Regions from separate parts of the Homo sapiens genome. Here region 1 is linked to region 2. Evidence: fine-mapped expression QTL. A gene starts in region 2. The other region holds a variant in brackets. All regions are shown on one strand. Distances are between the middles of the regions.

Region 1 (9,512 bases), 22 kb after region 2:
TGTCTTGGAGCCATAAAACATCCTGGAACAGAAAGTCAGGGGCTTTGGAGTCAAACAGGCCTGGACACACACCCAAGTTTCAGCCACTTTCTTGCTGTCTTAGGACCTGACGCCTCAAAGTGTGGTCCCTGCCAGACTCACAGGATTGACCTCACCTGGGAATTGAACACTACAGACTCTCAGGCCCCACCCAGACCTGCTGAAGCAGAATCTGAACTTTACCAAGATTCCCAGGTGATTCCTGTGCACTGGCTGCGGTTATTCATTAAGCATCGCTGAGGCCCAGTTTCCTCATCAGGAAATGGAAGAAATAATATCTTCCTTATAAGATGTCAAGAAGAATGGCAGACCTGGAACACTGCAGAATTTAATGAGGAGGTTGGCTCTTCCTCTCGGCTTCCCTTTCTGGGCCCCCATCTTCCTCCCTCCATCACAAGGAGAGCAGGAGACTTATGGTCATTTCCCCCTTTCTTTTCCTAATGGCAGAACCAAGTTATAATAAGAGGAAAATGCTTTAGGCAAGAAAGCACTCTGCTCCCCTGCAAATCATCCCCTCTCCAGTCTCAAGAGTCAGAAGAGTGGAGGGGAAGGAACAGCCACAAGGAGAGAAGAGCTTCTGGGTTTTCTTCTCTGGGGGGAGGGATGGTTCTGAGGGCGTCTGGAGAAAGGGTAAGACAGCTGGAGAAATGGCAGGCCCCAAGCAGAACAGCTCCCTGTTTTCGTGGCCTTATGCTAAATGCTTTATGAGAATGTTCTCAGTCATCGTCACCACAGCCAGGTGTAGGTGGGCATTGATGTCATCCACACACTAGATTGATATGGAAAGATCAGAGAGGTTGATAGATGGGTCCCAAGCCACACGCCAGCAGGCCACAGGCCTGACTCCAGAGCCTGGACTCAGTTTCTACCGTCAACCCCAGAATACTCTAGGGCTGTGAGGTAAGGGGAGCTGGCAGGCCAGGAGCCCACAGGGCCTAAGCCATGGCCAGTTTCCTTTTTTATCTGATATTTTATTGTGGTTTTTGAATTCACCCAGCCATTAGAATCACCTGGAGTTAAAAGAAAAAAAAATACAGCTGCCTAGGCTTCACCTCAGACCAAGTGAATCAAAATCCCTGTGGGGTGGGGGTAGACCTCAGTATTTTTTAAGTCTTGCCAGATGATTCCGAAGCACAGTGAGAGGGTAGAAACGTTTATTATCTCAGCAGGTAGGAGATAATAAAGGGAGGAGAAAACAAGATGAGAGATTTTGTTCCTGGACCAAACTGAGGGTTGGGCTGCTATTTCTCGTGGCCCAGTAACAAGATGCAGATGAACTGGGGAGGAAGAGAGTTTTTTATTTCCATAACCGGTTACAGGGAGAAGGCCTGGAAAATATCGCCAGACCAACTCAAATTACAAAGTTTTCCAGAGCTTGCATATCTTCTAAGCTACATGTCTATGTGTAAGTGTGCACTCATCTAAAGACATAAGCGATTAATTTCTTTTAATCTGTAGCTAACATCTAAGTCCTGAAGACCTTCCTCTGGAGCCTCAATAGATTTACTTAATCTAAATGGGTCCAGGTGCTGGGGTGATTACCCTTATCTTGTCTCCTGCTAAATCCTGAAGGTTTGGGGAGTTCCTTCAGACCTCCAATAAACTTGTTTTTGGAGGCCTGGGGAGTTTCTTCAGACACCCAGTAAAGCTTGTTTAATCCTAAACAGGTCCCACTAAGAATTCCTTCATTATCTCATCATGCTTCAAGGCCCAGCAAAGGCCTAGGCAAACTCTTGGTGGGCTTTTGTTACATTCCAGCCTTTGTATAAGGCCACCAGCTCTCTCAGCTTTTAATGTTTAACTTAACCACTCAGTCAGTATTGAAACAGTTGTTATGGATGCCTGCATTAGTGATACCTGGCCTGCCACAATGGGACCTATAGGAAAAGTTTCCTAAAATCTCAAAAAAATTCTCCTTGATGTAAAAGGGAATCCTGGCAGTTACAGCTCTCAGACAAGTCTTCTGTCTATGAGTCTCACTCTGAACTGAGTACACTCATTTTTCTAAGAAAACGAGTTTTTAAAATTATTTCTCTTCTCTTTTCCCCATTTCCCCTTGTTCCCCACTTCCTACTTAGCCCTTTAGAAATGCAACTATACGGCACTACTCACAATAGCAAAGACTTGGAACCAACCCAAATGTCCAACAATGATAGACTGGATTAAGAAAATGTGGCACATATACACCATGGAATATTATGCAGCCATACAAAATGATGAGTTCATGTCCTTTGTAGGGACATGGATGAAGCGGGAAACCATCATTCTCAGCAAACTATCGCAAGGACAAAAAACCAAACACCGCATGTTCTCACTCATAGGTGGGAATTGAGCAATGAGAACACTTGGACGCAGGAAGGGGAACATCACACACCGGGGCCTGTTGTGGGGTGGGGGAGGGGGGAGGGATAGCATTAGGAGATATACCTAATGTAAATGACGAGTTAAGGGTGCAGCACACCAACATGGCACATGTATACATATGTAACAAACCTGCACGTTGTGCACATGTACCCTAGAACTTAAAGTATAATAAATAAATAAACAAATAAACATATATATAAAAGAAATGCAACTATAACCTTTTACCTCCCCTTTACCAGACACTCCCTCCAGGGCAGGCTCATCTAACTGTGTGCTTAGAAGCTCTAGAGCAGAACTTGCACCCACCAGGAAACTGCCTGGAGACACAACAGTCAATTAATAACCCAAAATATGCCCACTATGAAACTCCCTCCCACCCGGAGAGCTTCAGCCACTTTACAACCTAGTTCTGCCCACGAAGATGCCAACTTGACCACCCGTTACATAAGTCATCAAAGCAAGTATGTGGACTCCCCCACCTGCCCGCTTCCTCTCCTGCATGCCATTCGTGCCAGCACCCCCCCCCCCGCCCCTTTAAAAGTGCCCACTTTCTGCTCCAAAAACGACACAGTACCCTTCAAGGCAGCTTCTTCCCCTAAACTAGCTTTGGAATAAAAAGTCAGTTTCTTTATACCAGGCCTCCCTTTTGTTCACTGGAGTCTGCAAGCAGTGAGTGACTGCACCTGCATTTTTGTTACATGGAGAGAGAGATTGAGAGAAAGAGAATCTTCCATCATTAGAGGCTGTATTCCCACCCCCAAGAGCATCTCATGTAAGTGGAGTTCCTGGCCACACACAGAACCAAGCAAAGTATGTGTGGGCTTAGCTCCAGCCCCAGCTCTTAGGAAAATCTTCATGTCCCATGACAGGCCGTCCCATTAGATTCCCACAGGTATTCCCAACAGGCCCAGGGCCAGGTTACCAACATGCTGTCTTCCCTTCATTTTAAAAGTAATGAGGTAAGGAAGTCTTTGGAGATGGAAATTTCTCAAGGTACACCAGAGCCACCCAGTGCCTCCCAGCAGCGTCACACCACAGGTGTGGTTAATAAAACCTGAAATAATGAGGGAAAAGAGAACAGTGCAAAGATGTATTCTGCACTTTTCCACTGTTTTCAGCTGTTTTCAATGCCTCCGCCCCTGAGAGTGGGTGGAGGCCCATGGGATGGGAAGCTTCCTGTGTGAGAACACACATGGAAGGCAGGAAGACAGGACAGTACTGCTAAGCTTCATTTCTGCCGTCAAAATCCTTGCCAGACTCTACGTCCCTGGCCTCCTAGGGATCTAAAAAACCCTGAAATGTTCTGATACATTCTAGGATAAAAGCAGAAAATGCAAGTCTCCTCACCAAACCAAAAACATTTGCTCAGATGACAGGCAAATGCAATTCATTAAATTGTTCAACACTTAAAACATTTACTGTCAGCCTCTTGGGCATTTTTGGATGGCTGCCTGTCTAGCAGGCCTTTAACCTGGTTCAATCAGAATCAACAAAGAGCTAGATGGTCGCAGGGAAGCCCCTGCTGGGGTCACAATCAGGTGAGAAGCAGCTCACTGGGCTAGAATTACCCAAAGTCACTCTTAAGCCGCCTATGACAAGCCCAAGGCCCGGGATGACTCGCAGGCCCAACCTCACCCCAGGGCGTAAGGAGGGGCCGGACTAACTACACCTGCCACAGAGGCAAGATGGGAAAGTGGCTTCCTCAGCCTGGTGGGGTATGGAAATACATAAGTGAGTAGATTCGGGGCTTTCCAGAGCCAGACTCCCCAGGAGAGGCTCAGAACAGGGATGTGGAATGGATGTTAGGCCTGGGGGGCAGATGACAGTGGAAAGAGGTTCCACTGGGGAAGGGCAGGGGAGGGGGGTGTCTGCCAGAAAACTTGCTGGCATGAGGCTGGGCCCTCAGGGCCTCGGTCGTCTGGATCTGCCCCAGCACGTGGCTGCAGGCTGGGCTCCCCTGCAAGAGCTGGGATGCTGCCTCTTCAGCCTTTGCCTTACCAGGCCTGCCTTGCCTGTGCATTTGAGGTCATGGCCTTAGCTCTAACTCTTTCTGGTCACACAGTTGTTAACCTGCCACTGGCCCCAGCCAAGGCAGAGCCACTCCTACCTAAAGTGTCCAGAGCCTGAGCCCCAGACTTCCCTCTCCACTGCCGGGACTTCATTTCACTGGCTGTTCCCCCAGGGGCCAACACCTTCCCTGCTTCCACAAGTCCTGGCCCGTGCTGTGCCCACTCGCCCCTCCAGCCTTGTGATGTGGCCCACAATTGCAGCCTGTGCAGTTTCAGAGACTCGGCAGCATCTGCACACTGGTAGCACTTTACGCTCCACATGCATCTCCATTTAGGGTGTTTCAATGGCAAAGCATTGTCTAGTCCTCTTCAGAACTAGCCAGAACTCCAACTTCTAGAGAAGGCTTTTAGTGATGCAAATCTCAAATTCCCCTTGTCTTTTGATAAGCTGGGCCGATCAGAAGGTTCCCACAGGACCAACAGACACGTGCTGCAGCTTTTGCAGGGCAGAAGCACGATGTCCCTGAACACGTTTGTTACACTCACCTCCAATCAGGCCCATAACAAATGGACTGGATTCGATGACCAACTC[A/G]GGCTGCGGGTTTCAGGAGGGCTTGCCCAGCAGCTCACAGATGGGCAACTATCGTCTCGAGCGGGCTGCAGCTTGCAGGGCTGTGCTACCCTTTTTCTTCCTAACTCTTTGTCTCAACATTGTCTGCAACTGGTTTTGCTGCTGTCACATTTCATTTCGTTCATCACAAACCTAGTTACTGGAAAATTCTCTGTGATTAAAAAAGTACAAGATAATAAAACCTTAGAAAAATAAGTAATTCTTTTATTTCTACTTCAAAATATACCATGTACATCTGGAACTCTAAGGGGGAAAGTAACCAGGAGAATAGTCCATCAAAAAAATAAGATAAATAATAATTGCCCATTTCAGATCCATCTTTAATCCAGCTGAAAAGGGTATGAGCTGCCAGTTGTCTTGCTGTCAGGGGCCACCCCTCTGTCAGTGGCCTTGCGGCTGCCTCCCAAGGACTCTGAGTCTAAGAGTTCCTGGAGCGTCTTGAGGACGTGCTTTGGCTGGCTGGCGGCAAAGTCCAGCAGGCGGGAGCCCATGTGCTCCTGGAGGCTCCTGGACAGCCGGCACACCACCCCGCGGATGTTCCCGCTGGGTCCAGGCAGGGTGCCATTCCTGGTGGCGGTGTTCAGGAAGTGCCAGAGGATGGGAAGGACATGCCGCTCTACAGCTTGAGGCTTCCGGGGGTAAACTGAGGCCACCAGCACTGTCAGGCAGAAAAGGAGAGTCACTTGAGCCAGGCACTCTCTCCCTCTCCCACTTCCCTCTCTTGGGACACCAACTTTGTCCCCCAAAGGGCTGGCAGCCCAGCAGGCACAGCAACTAAGGATCATGACACATTTAGCAGCCTATGAAAATGTGTTAGCTTCTTTTAACATTAGTAGAAAATATATGAATATGTCCAACCTGGTTTATATCTGTGCTTATACCAACCAGTCAGAAACTATAATTTTTAAATATTTTTTATGGAGAAAGGGGCACGCAAAGGCAGAAATATGCAGAATCTCTGACAATCATAATGGTTCCTCCAGCCCAGGGAACAGGAAAGAGGCAGGCACGCCTGGTTACAATCCTGCCCCCATCAACTGTGTCAGCATGAGGAAGCCACCCGACCTTTCTGAGCCTTTTCCAAACCCATAAAGTAAGGATAAAAATGCTGAACCAACCTCTCCAGATTGTTAGAAATTCGATAATATACATAAAGTGCCTACCTGTAGGCAGGCAGGTGACAAATAGTAACTATAGTAATACTGCATTTATCCACATCACCACCTATGGAAGTCCACACAAATACAGAGAAAAACTACTGGGGAGGGAAATCAAGACCCTCTCACATGAAGCATGCTGGCAGACAAGACAGCTGGCAGGGGAGAAGCCTAGCACAGCCTCCCCGGTGCCCGGATGCCAAACCTCAGGACGAGACCAGCAGCAGAGGCATGAACGTGCTTGTGAACCAGCAAGCTCTGCACAGACCATTCCAGTGATAAGCCCCCATATCTGGTTTCCCAAGGCCCCCAACCCTCTCTAAACCCCGGAAAACCCAGAAGCCAGCTGAATCTGCCAACCAGCTCTTCATCACCTGAGTAAATGCCAGGGCTGTGGCCACATTAAAACCACATCAAGGGCTCTCCTGGGTCCCCAGAGGGGCTGCTCAGGCCTTCAGCTGTGGCCGCATTATCCTAAGCGCATTAGCACTATCGAAGCTGGCTTTGCGATTCACATGCTCTGCCTGTCATCCAGCCGAAGGATAAGTGCTGGGGCAGGCAAACAACACTAACAGCAGCGCTTTATTGATTCTGTGGGCCGGGAATTCTGTGGAAAACAGTTTCCATATCCTGGAAACTGCCTGAGCCCAGGGCTCAGAGCTTCACATCACAGCTCCATTTCATGCTCACAGCACCCCTGAGAGGCAGGATGCTTGTCCGTTTTCCAGAGGAGGAAAGCAAGACTCAAATCAAGGCAAAGGGCAAAGCAGAGGACAAAGGCCTAATCTGCCTGGACTCCAAAGTCCACACTCTTTCTACCGCATGCTGTCCCCAAATTTCTAGGGATTCCATATTTCAGAGGTGATCTGGAGCTTTATTTTTTGTTTTATTTATTTATTGAGACAGTGTCTTGCTCTGTCACCCAGGCTGGAGTAGAGTGGCACGATCACGGTTCACTGCAGTCTCGACCTCCTAGGCTCAAGTAATTCTCCTGCCTCAGCCTCCCCAGTAGCTGGGACCACAGGCATGCGCCTCCACGCTCAGTTATTTTTTTAAAAATTTTTTTTGTAGAGATGGGGGTCTCATTATGTTACCCAGGCTGGTCTTGAACTCCTGGTCTTAAGCAATCTGCCCATCTTGACCTCCCAAAGTGCTGGGATCATAGGTGAGCCACCTTGTTTTATTTTTCATGAAACTGCAATTTGTCCTTCCTTCATCAGGACCACATCATCTAATCCCCTAGGATACCTTCCCCTTAGAGCCCCACGGGTCCCTCTGATTTCAAAGCCAGCCTGGAATAAGGAGGAACCAGGGAAGATGCCCTGGGCCACCCTCTGGTCAGCCTGACACTCTCTTGGTGACATTTATCAAGGAATGTTGGCTTTGAGGCTGCACCCTTGGGGCTCTTGCAGGGAACCTCCGAGGGTCACAGGATCCTCAGAGGTGAAGGTGGTCCTGATAACTGGAAGGGCAGGACTGCACCTTTTGGGTCACCCCAGCATTCCCCAGGAAAGGATCCTGGGGTAAAGGGCTTGGAGGAGCTTTCTAAAGTGGAGCAAAGAGGTACACTGGTTGGAAAGAGTTGAGAGTTCTATTCCTTGTGCTTGAAACAGGCTGAGTAGGAAGAGAACAGGTGACAAGAAAGCAGTCCCTGTCAGCCCCAGGGTGGGAGATGAGGGGAAACTAGAAGGGGGACAGTGAGAGGGAACCAAAAGAAAACGAATGACCCTGAGTAGCCGCCTACACTGAATAACGATAACTCAAAAGTATCCTGAATCCCTATGGAATGCAAAAATAGGTGAGAACACAGAGATTTCTATGCCCGTGTTTATACCAACCTTTTTCACAATCGCCAAAAGGCAGAAGCAGCCCAGTGTCCATTGAGGAATGGATAAACAAAATGTGGTATATACATTTAATGGAATGTTTTTCAGCCTTCAAAAGGAAGGGAATTCTGGCCAGGTGCTGTGGTTCATGACTATAATCCCAGCACTGTGGGGGTCCCAGGTGGGTGGATCACTTGAGGTCAAGAGTTCAAGACCAGCCTGGCCAACATGGCAAAACCCTGTCTCTACTAAAACTACAAAAATCGGGCCAGGCGCAGTGGCTCACGCCTGTAATCCCAGCACTTTGGGAGGCCAAGGCGGGTGGATCACGAGGTCAGGAGTTCAAGACCAGCCTGGCCAACATGGAGAAACCCCATCTCTACTAAAAAAAAAAAAAAAATACAAAAATTAGCTGGGCATAGTGGTGCGTGACTGTAATCCCAGCTACTTGGGAGGCTGAGGAAGGAGAATTGCTTGAACCGGGACCAGGGAGGCAGGGGTAGCAGTGAGCTGAGATCGCGCCACTACACCCCAGCCTGGGCAACAAAGCAAGACTCTGTCTAAAAAAAAAAAAAAAAAAAAAAATTAGCTGGGTGTTGTGGTGGGCGCCTGTAATCCCAGTTACTTGGGAGCCTGAAGCATGAGAATGGCTTGACCCTAGGAGACAGAGGTTGCAGTGAGCTGAGATCTCATCACTGCACTCCAGCCTGGGTGACAGAACGAGAATCTCTCTGAAAAAAAAAAAAAAAAAAGGAAGGAAATTCTGACACCCGCTACAACATGGATAAATCTTGAGGACATTCTGCTGTGTGAATTAAGCCAGACACAAAAAGACAAACTGTACAGTTCCATTTATATGACATACCTAGAATAGCCAAAATCGTAGAGACAGAAAGTAGTTGGTGGTTGCCAGGGACTGGGGAAGGGAGGAATGGGGAGCTAGTGCCTAATGGGGACGTAGTTTCTGTTTTGCAAGGTAACAGTTCGGAAGATGACTGCAAAAATCATGGACACTACCACTGAACTGTACAACTAAAAATGGTTAAGGTGGTACATTTTATGTTGTGTATTTTAACACAATTCTTTTAATGGGGGGTGATATAGTTTGGCTGTGTCCCCACCCAAATCTCATCTTGAATTGTAGCTCCCACAATTCCTACGTGTCATGGGAGGGAGCCGGTAGGAAGTAATTGAATCATGGGGGCAGGTCTTTCCGGTGTACTTCTTGTGATAGTAAGTCTCATGAGATCTGATGGTTTTAAAAGGTTATAAGGGGGAATTTTCCTGCACAAATTCTGTCTTCCTTGCCACCATGTAAGATGAGTGGCATGATTGTGAGGCCTCCCCAGCAACATGGAACTGTTCGTCCATTAAACCTCTTTTTCTTTATAAATTACCCAGTCTCGGATATGTCTTTATCAGCAGCATGAGAACAGGCTAATACAGCAGGGAAAAGTGAGAACTATCTCAAGAGCCAAACCCAGGC
Region 2 (9,595 bases):
CCCAGCCCTTTTTGCATCTAAGTAGGGCCATGTGATAAGTCCTGCCCATCAGAATGTAAGCAGAAATGATGGGTGTCAACTCCATGCAAAGACAGTCAAGGATCTGACCTACCTTCCCCATACTCTCTTCCCTTTCCGCCCTGTAAGTCATGTATTGAAGATGTTCATGTTCCAAGATGGAAGGGCTTAAATCCCTGAGTCACCATGTGGAGTAGGGCTGTTTAAGAGAATGTCCCAACACCTACACTGGCATTGTATAAACAATAATAACTCTTACTGTGCCAAGTCACTGATATTTGGGGATTGTTAGTTACAAAAGTTAGCCTACCCTTTAAAAAAAAAACTCTAATTTATATGTAAGAATTGAATCTATTTCAATAAAACACTTTCTATCATACAAAAAAACTAGATAAATGTTTTTCAAGCTTGTGGTACATTTAGGATACTTTGATTCTAAACATACACTACCTTGTGTACATGAAATTTGCTTTGGAGGATACTTAGAGGCATCTTAAAGGTTTAAAGAGTCAACCTCCAGAGGTACAATGTACCTGTGTGATGACTGATCCAGACCATACGCCATGCACACTAAGATTCAAGAAAAACAGGCAGGTGTTTCTACTATCATCACCAAATCAAAAGCTACTTAGGGCAGACACCTGGATATCACATGTTGGTTTCTGATAGAATTGTGTATCCCACGAGCAACTCTGGATGGATTGCTCTAAGGTATATAACAGTAGCCAGAATGGTTCTTTTAATGATCCTCCAAAGCAAAGCAAGGAAGGCCAGCTTCTGAAAAGATAAATGTAAAGTGAGTGCCTAATGAAGTGCGTGGGACACAAACATGGCCTCCTTCCCCGCCAGCTCACCACAATAGATGCGTGCTTATCTCTCTGTTACCTGTTCATCTCACATCCAGACCAAGGAACTGTGTTGCAAAAAGCACTCCTTCAGATATGGAGGACCAGGTATGTCCTAGGTAGGCCTTGACTAGTGGGAAATTTTTCTTGGCTTTTAAGGTACAGGAGAGCCCCTTTGGTGAGGCTGATAGACTTTGAGGGGTAAAACATTTCTTAGATTGTTTAAATGACTTTCAGTCTTGGCTCAAAACTGATGTCACACTAGAACCATCTTTTGCTGATCAATTAGTTCAGGGCCACATCAAACAAAATGGCATGGAATTTATTTAACATGCTAAAGGGGAAAGACTAGTACCTTATAAACTAATGTTTAGTATAGTTACACTAGATGCATTGGTTTGAGCTATGATATGGCCTGATCTTTTTTTTTCAAGTGACCTTTTGAAGGTGGAGCCTAATTTTTCTCTCCTTGAATGTAGACTCTACACAGTGACCAGCTTCTACAGAATAGAATATGGAGGAAGTGAAGGTGACCTTTGGGATTAGAACTTGCTCTGGGGGAAGCCAGCTGTTCTGTTGTAAGAACACTCGAGCAGCCCTACAGAGGGGTCCATGTGACATGTAACTGAGGCCTCCTGCAAACAGCCAGCAAGGAATGGAGGCCTTCATGTGAGTGAGCTATCACAGCCATGTAGATGAGCTATCTTGAAGAGAATCATCCAACCCCAGTCAAGCCTTCAGATGACTGCAATCCCGGCTGACATCTTGACTGCAAACTCATGAGAGATCCTTTTGAGTTGCCCCCAAATTCCTGACCCACACAAACTGTGAGATGTTATCTCAAGCTCCTTATTTTTGGAGTAGTTATACAAAAACAGACAACTAATAGAGGGACCCTTTTCCAAGACCTAGAGCATTATAGCTAGGACCCTCTTAGGCGCCAAGCAAAGCATACAATACCGCATTTTAGTTAGATGTGTGTGTGTCTGTGTGTGTGTGTACACGCAAGTGCAACATAGAGTGTGCAACTTCATTGTACAACTCAAGGAATTTTTGCCTATATAGTATATACCCATATAACTACCACCTAGGTCAAGATGTGGAACATTTCCAATACCCTAAAAAAAATTCCTTCATGTCCACAACCAGTTGATAGCTCTTCCTAGAGATTCACCACTTTTCTAATTATTTAATATAACTATGGATTACTTGCCTGTTCCCGAACTCCATAAAAATGGAATGTTTCACCTTGCACTATTTAATGTCTAGCTTCTTTCACTCATCATAATGATTTTAAAATTTATGCTGTTGTTACGTTTCATTAGTTTGTTCCTTTCATTGCTAGGTAGTATTCCATTGTACAATTATATCAAATTTATCTATTTCCCTATTGATAAACATTTGGGTTGTTTCCAATTTGAGGCGATTATGAGTAGAACTATAAATTTTCTTATAGCAGTCTCTTTGCAGACCTTTATGTTCAATATTCTTGGGTAAATTCTTAGGAGTGGAATTGACGGGTCACAGGGTATATTTTTAAATAACAGTTTTCCAAAATAGTTGTACTTTTATATGCCCACTCAAAATAATTTTTTTCATTTGAAGCAAATCCAATTTAAAATAAAGAAAGACAAAAGTTGGTCTTAATGAAAAATGAACAGCAATGAATAAAGAGCTTCCTAAATTACTTGGAATAGTCAAGGAAACTCATGTGTAAGGTACAGAGCTATCTGACAGCAAATCCTCCAGGCAAACACTTTGATTTTGATCATTGGTTTGGAAATAATTTTAGTCACTTAGATAAAAGTTTTTCACAAAGATGAGTCAAGCAGGGGCCCAAATCCCAAGAGAAGAAGAATTTACATAAAGCATCCTCCAGATGAGTTTTTCACTCTGTTAAATGGATGACCCGAAGGGAAAAGAAAGCCTTCCCACGTGGCACCCTTGTTTACTGGGCCAGCTCAGCACTGTGACAAATGAAGCAACGTCTTGATGCCTAACGCAGCTCGCCTGCAGGCACTGATTCGGCTTTGTGTCTCGCCTGAGTTCTGCTTCAAATAAACAGATCGGGGAAGTTTATTAATGATGCACTCTGGGGCATCGGGCTGTGATAGGCAGCAGGCGCTGCACACAGCCCCAGTGGCCAGTCTCCAGCTAGTACAAGAGGCAGCTCTAAGTCCTGCCTGTTTTGGAGACATCCTGACACCCATGGTGTTGTTTTCGTTGGTTGTATGAAGTGGGAAAAAATGAAGACTGGAAAGCCAGAATAGCAACTCCAATCTCAGCAACTTCAGGGGGATGCTCAGAGATGCTCAATGCAATGTTTTTCTATTTGGAAAATTTCGAAATTGGCAACAACCTAGATGCCCAAAAATAGGAAATGGTTAAATAAAAGCCCCTCTCCCTCCTGCAGACAGTGGGAATCATTGTGTTTGAGAGCCGAGAAATTAAACAATGAGGCCTTAGAAAAATCCTGAGGCAGCAGTGGATTGAGCACAGGGTGGGGGTGGGGGGCAAAAAGAACACCAGATTCAGAGGGCTCTAAGTGCATCATAGGCAATTATTTCCAGACCATTCAGGAATAAACCAACGCAAACCAATGAAATTCTTATGACTTTCATTATTATAAGTGCCCTAGCTTCCAGGGGGAAAGGAGTAAGAAACTTTTTTTTTTTTTTTTTTTTTGAAGACAGGGTCTCACTTCCAAAGTCCAGGCCAGCTTGCAATAGCACTATTACAGCTCACTGCAGTCTCAACTTCCTAGGCTCAGGTGATTCTCCCACCTCAGCCTCCGGAGTAGCTGGGATTACAGGTGGGTGCCAACATCCCCAGCTAATTTTTTGTATTTTTAGTAGAGACAGCCTCACCATGTTGCTCAGGCTGGTCTCAAACTCCTGAGCTCAAATGATAAGCCTGCCTCAACCTTCCAAAGTGCCGAGATTTATAGGCGTTGAGTCACCACACCTGGCTGAAACTGCATGTTTTTGAGTACCTACCTTGGGTCAAGCACTTACCAAGTATTAATTGACAATCCTCACAATGGCTCTGTGAGGTAAGTACCGTGGTCCTCATTTCAAAGATGAGCTCTGCCTCAGGAAAGCTTAAAAACTATCAGAAGTTTCCTCAACTAACAGGAGAAAGACTCAGGATTCAAACTCCAGTCTTTCTAGGCCAAGCTGTTGTTCTAGATTTTACTGACAGCAAATAAAGTTTAAAAGGAGGTTTTAAATGGGCAGCTGCTACCCTTAGCCACAGGCAGGAGCCCCATGCTCAGTTTGAGCAGAAAAATGGGCTTCCCCTTGAGTTCTCCTCTTAATAATGAAATGGCTCTCCACTGCCCAGTTTTTAGCTTGTTTTCCTATGAAGAAGTTTGAATAAGAAGCCTCTTCCCATGAAAGCATTGCCTTCCTGAGCGTAGTGACCAGCCTTGAGCTTTACATGGCAGTGACTTTTCCTGCTGTCCCCATCCAAACTGGGGGGGATAGCTTTCCTGCTACCTAACTCAATTTTCTAATGCAAAGGAAAAGCAACCTGCCTTCTTCATTCACTATCTTATTTAGAGACATTCTCTATACTAGAGTCCCGGGGTTTTTATAAGCCACACAAACAATAATGCATTACTTCAATTATTATCTATTGTGTGTTTTGGGGGCTTCTTGATAACAGCAGATTGGAGCACACTTGGCTGGTTTGCCCTTATTAAACCGTGAAGGTCACTTCTCTTCCAGGGCCTGTAATCAACGAGCCCTCTCTTCTCTTCCACAAATGCATCTCTTCCAGAGCCTTTGCAATTATGGCTCATTTCTCTAGGTTTCATATGGCAGGCGTCTGAACAGAATTAAAAGCATGAGCACGTGCAAAAATAATCCGCTTCCCAAGATAGTAAATGCTGAGAAGTTCTATATTAGAACACACTGTGAGTGCTGACTGGCTAGGGCATGATTAACCTAATAGGCTTAAGCTGCACTTGCTATCCACATCTGTCAGGACGCGAGCAAAACACAGGCCCGTAATCCACCAGGCTGGGAGCCTTCAGAATTGTCCCGCTGCTCACTAACAGCAGAGGGTTCCAAACTTAGAACAACAACAGGACGACAGGTACCACTCCCTCTTCACATTTGGACCAAGAAAATAAAGAAAGCTGGTTCCAAGTTTAGGATATTGTACCATGGACTTCAAAGAATTCTGGCCTGAAAATTGCCTGGATGGACTAGTAAGATTGCCTTTTGTTCCTATTTCAAATATGATTCTTGGAAAATTGTGAAGGTGGGTGGAAGATGACTACAAGCTGAAATCATGGGGTGTACACCTTCACACAGTGACCTTGTAAACAGCGTTGCAAAGAGTGGCATTCAGTTCTTGAAAAAGCCCAAAGCAATTCGGCCAGGATGTCAGGGCGGAAGTGAAAGAGGTTCCATCCCTTTGCTGGTTAAAAACTCCACCTGCTATGACGCTGGGGAGGGCCTGGCAGAGGAGCAGCCAAGTCCCAGGAGGAACCAAACCACAGCTAAAGGTCTTTGTCAGCTCATGGGAGATCCTGCTTCAGGCAAAAGGAAAGATATGGAAGGACTGATCCCAGGAACCAAAACCTCTTCATCCCAGCTGAACAAATCACAAAGCCACATGGCTAAGGATATTCCGTTCAAGACACAGGGTTCCCATGGATCACAAGGGGCAGACTTTTCTGGAGATGAGAGTGAGGAAAGTAGTACCCAAGATACTTCCAAATGGAAAAGGACAGCAAAATGTCACACGTCAAGCACACAGAGCCACTGCTACCAAACCATCCACCCTGCTCATGAGCCTGAAGGCAAAGTGGACTTCCCGGAGCCTCTGGTAAAGGCCCACCAGCAGGCTTACACCTATCTACACTCCAGCCTCTCCAAATATGAAGCAATTCTGTGCATCATCCATCAGGCCACCCAGACCCGGGAGCTGCTGCAGCCCATGGTCAGCTTCTTGCTGCTGTGCTTTGAGGAGATCAGCCAGCTGTTGGGGGAGATCTCCAAGGATGGAGAAGTGCTCCTGCAGGAAGTCAGGGAGGATCTGGCTTGGCCTTTGAAGAAAAGAGAGCCCCAGGAGCAGCCAAATCTCCTGCAACAGCTGCTACAGTACACAGTCAGCAAGCTGCAGGTGCTCAATGGCACAGTGGCCTCGCTCACCGGCAGCTTCCTGGAGGGCTCCAGCAGCTACCTCCACTCCACTGCAACCCACTTGGAAAATAAGCTGAGCACAAAAAGGAATGTGGATGAACGCCTCCTGAGGGCTCTGAGGCAGCTAGAGAGCCTGGCGAGTGGCTGTGGCGACCCTGGGGTGCAGGGTCTCCCCTTATGCTCTGAGGACAGTGGCATTGGTGCTGACAATGAGTCCGTGCAGTCGGTGGACAAGCTGGGCAAGCAAACCAGCTGGGACCTTGCACCAGAGCCCGAAGAATGGAAGTCGGTGACTTCACCCCACACAGAGGCCAGGCAGTCAGGACACACCTGGCAGCAAAGTCCATTCTGTTTGGGCTCAGGCAGACCCCAGGACTGCCTGCTCTCAGGGGCTCCTATGGCAAAGGTTCAGCCACGAGCACAGGACGAAGCAAGGAGCCCATGCCTCTCCAGTACAAGCCCAGAAAATATCACCTCCCCACCTTTGAAGCTGGGGACAAGCACCCCATGTGATTCCTTTGGGATTGGGGTCTCTGTGGAACCACACCTTTCCAAAACCTCCAGGCCGATGGACGCTTCATCTCTTAGTGACAGCGAGGACAGCAGCCCAGAGGAGGAGGAGGAAGACAAAATGAGCAGCATGAGTCTGTGTGCCTGGCAGGAAAAAACTCCACATTCAAGGCCACAATCTTCACCTGCTGACCGGGAAAGCCCATTTCAGGCCCGCACCAGGAGGCTTAGGAGCCTCCAGGCCCAGGAAATGATTCTGAAGATGAAGGAGTCAATCAGCGAAAGGATCAAGTTTGTCCCTGTGCCCTGTGGGCACCAGGACTGGTCTGAGGAGGAGGAGGGGAGGACAGTGGTCCCCCCAAGACCTAGCACGGTAAGTGGCAGCAGGAGGGCCCCTGAGAGGCAGACGAGGTCCCAGTCAGAGTCGTGTCTCCAGAGTCACGTGGAGGACCCCACCTTTCAGGAGCTGCGAAGGGTCCAGAGGGACCTCAGTCAGAAGCTGGAGGCATTTTATGCCCTGGGTGCCAAAGGGCAGGGGCAGAGCCAGGAGCAAATTCTGCAGCCCAGAGCAGCCGCCGTGTGGCCCAATGGCACCTGCAGGGTCAGTCCAAGCAACACCACCAGCAGGCTCAAGGCATCCCTCACCAAGAACTTCAGTATTTTGCCTAGTCAGGACAAGAGCATCTTGCAGAAATGCAATCCCCATCCTGAGGACGAACAAGGCAAAGCTGGGAAGCTTCCAAATGCCATCCCATCAGGAGAGGTCAGTGAGGCTGCCAAGGCCACAGACTGGAATGTCAGAGGCTGTCCCACCAGAACATCCGTCAAGAAGCTTATTGAAACTTTCAGTCCCACGGAGAGTCTGAGGATGCTGGGGGACTCTAAGGACGCTGGGGCAAGTCCCTGCCTCAGGAATTGCATCATGCCCCCCAGATTTCCCAAGTACACAGGGCTTGCCCCTTTGTATCCGAAGCCCCAAATTTCTCCAGCATCAGGCAGAGAATCTCTCAAAATGGGCATAGGCTGGAAGCCCTTAGCACCTATCTTTCCCCCTCTGCCTAAAGCAGAAGCAGCCAAGAGTGAGGAGCTCAGCTGTGAAATGGAGGGGAACCTCGAGCACCTCCCTCCACCGCCTATGGAAGTTCTGATGGACAAATCATTCGCTTCTCTGGAGTCCCCAGAAAGCAGCAAGTCCACAGAGAACTCCCCCAAGGAAACCCAGGAGCCAGGGCCGGGAGAGGCTGGCCCCACCAGGAGAACATGGGCTTCCCCAAAGCTGAGGGCCTCTGTGAGCCCCCTGGACTTGCTGCCCAGCAAGAGCACCGCCAGCCTGACCAAGCCTCACAGCACAGGGCCAGGGAGTGGCAGGAGCAGCTGCCAGCCCAGGAAGCCAGCCCTGGACCTGAGCAGCCCACCAGCCACCAGCCAAAGCCCCGAGGTGAAGGGTGGGACTTGGAGTCAGGCAGAGAAGGCCACCAGCCTCTACAGGCAGCCCCGGAAGGCCATCGCCTGGCACCACTCCGGCCCTCCATCTGGACAAAACAGGACCTCAGAGTCCAGCCTGGCCAGACCAAGGCAGAGCCGAGAGAGAAGCCCCCCTGTGGGCAGAAAGGCCTCTCCCACGAGGACACACTGGGTGCCTCAAGCAGACAAGAGGCGCCGGAGCCTTCCCTCCTCTTACAGACCTGCCCAGCCAAGCCCCTCTGCTGTGCAGACGCCCCCCAGCCCACCTGTGAGCCCCAGGGTGCTAAGCCCACCCACCACAAAGCGGCGAACTTCCCCACCGCACCAGCCCAAGTTGCCCAACCCTCCCCCCGAGAGTGCACCTGCTCAGTGCAAGGTCCCCAGCCCCCCAACCCAGCACCCAGAAGCAAGCCCCCCTTTCTCGATTCCCTCCCCATCACCCCCAATGTCCCCTTCTCAGGAGCACAAGGAAACAAGAGACTCTGAAGACAGCCAAGCAGTCATAGCCAAAGTGTCTGGGAACACACATTCCATATTCTGCCCAGCTACCTCCTCTCTGTTTGAAGCTAAACCGCCACTCTCAACAGCCCACCCACTGACCCCACCATCGCTGCCGCCAGAGGCTGGGGGCCCTCTCGGGAACCCAGCAGAATGCTGGAAGAACAGCTCAGGGCCTTGGCTGAGAGCAGACTCGCAGCGGAGAGCAGCTCTGTGTGCCCTCAACCCTCTGCCTTTCCTCAGGAGGACAGCTTCTGACCGCCAGCCAGGTGGCCGACCGCAGCCTCCCACCTTGGACCCCACCAGCACCTCTTATGAATCCCAGCTCGGCCAGAACAGGTAAGGAGTGTCCTGGGGTCACTGCCCTTCAGCGGCTTGGACTAGAGAGGAACAGAGCGAATGGGCCAAAAGATCTTCTGGGTCTCAGTAGTTTTCAAACTGTGCTCCAAGAGAAGAGGCAGTTGGGAAAAAGGTGTAGGGGGCAGTTCCAGCTCCCCCACTCTCCAACCTTGAGTTACTGTGCTCTTATCTGTTACACATTCCAGCTGCCTAGGAAATATTTTAATTGAAAAGAGGCCCTGCTGTATTAAAAAAAATCAAGTTCAAATGAGAACACATGGACACAGGAAGGGCACACACCGGGGCCTGTTGGAGGGTAGGGAACAAGGGGAGGGAGAGCCTTAGGACAAATACCTAATGCATGCGGGGCTTAAAACCTGGATGATGGGTTGATAGGTGCAGGAAACCACCATGAAACAAATATATCTATGTAACAAACCTGCACGTTCTGCACATGTATCCCAGAACTTAAAAATATATATATATATCTCAAAAAAATAAAATAGTAAAGTTCAAAACACTCAAGTTAGTTCAACCCCACACACCCCATGTTTTACAGCTGGGGAAACTGAGATGAAAAGGCTTGCCCCTGTGGCTGGCTCACTGGTGCCGTGTCTCAAACCAGCAGCCTGGCTCCCCATGTTTCTGGTTCCCCGCAGGAGACCAGCATCTAGTTGGGAGGTTCTCAAGCTATTTGGTCCCAGGATGGCTTTAAACCCTTTAAAGTTATTAAGAGCCCAAAAGAGCCTTTGCGTGTGGAGGCTATAT

Alleles and levels. Positions count from the first base shown, and alleles are read on the strand shown. Sizes are in standard deviations (SD) of each study's normalised expression.
For the expression in skeletal muscle of the gene that starts at base 4,898 in region 2, allele A in region 1 goes with a lower level than allele G (small effect, 0.25 SD a copy in GTEx).

The links. PIP is the estimated chance that this variant, and not a neighbour inherited with it, causes the effect.
Region 1: its variant is the best candidate, but not a certain one, in a credible set for the expression of PCARE in skeletal muscle (GTEx, PIP 0.56).

What each region holds. Positions count from the first base shown.
Region 1 is chr2:29,047,945-29,057,456 of GRCh38, reverse strand. TOGARAM2 (TOG array regulator of axonemal microtubules 2) reads right to left here. Exons shown (of 20, transcript NM_199280.4): 20 at 5,227-5,701. The coding sequence ends at 5,364. Among named protein-coding and RNA genes, the nearest start is that of PCARE, 22 kb to the left of the region's middle. RefSeq lists an enhancer at 3,992-4,502. The variant A/G (reference allele first, on the strand shown) is at 5,005.
Region 2 is chr2:29,069,826-29,079,420 of GRCh38, reverse strand. PCARE (photoreceptor cilium actin regulator) reads left to right here and starts at 4,898. Exons shown (of 2, transcript NM_001029883.3): 1 at 4,898-8,827. The coding sequence starts at 5,160.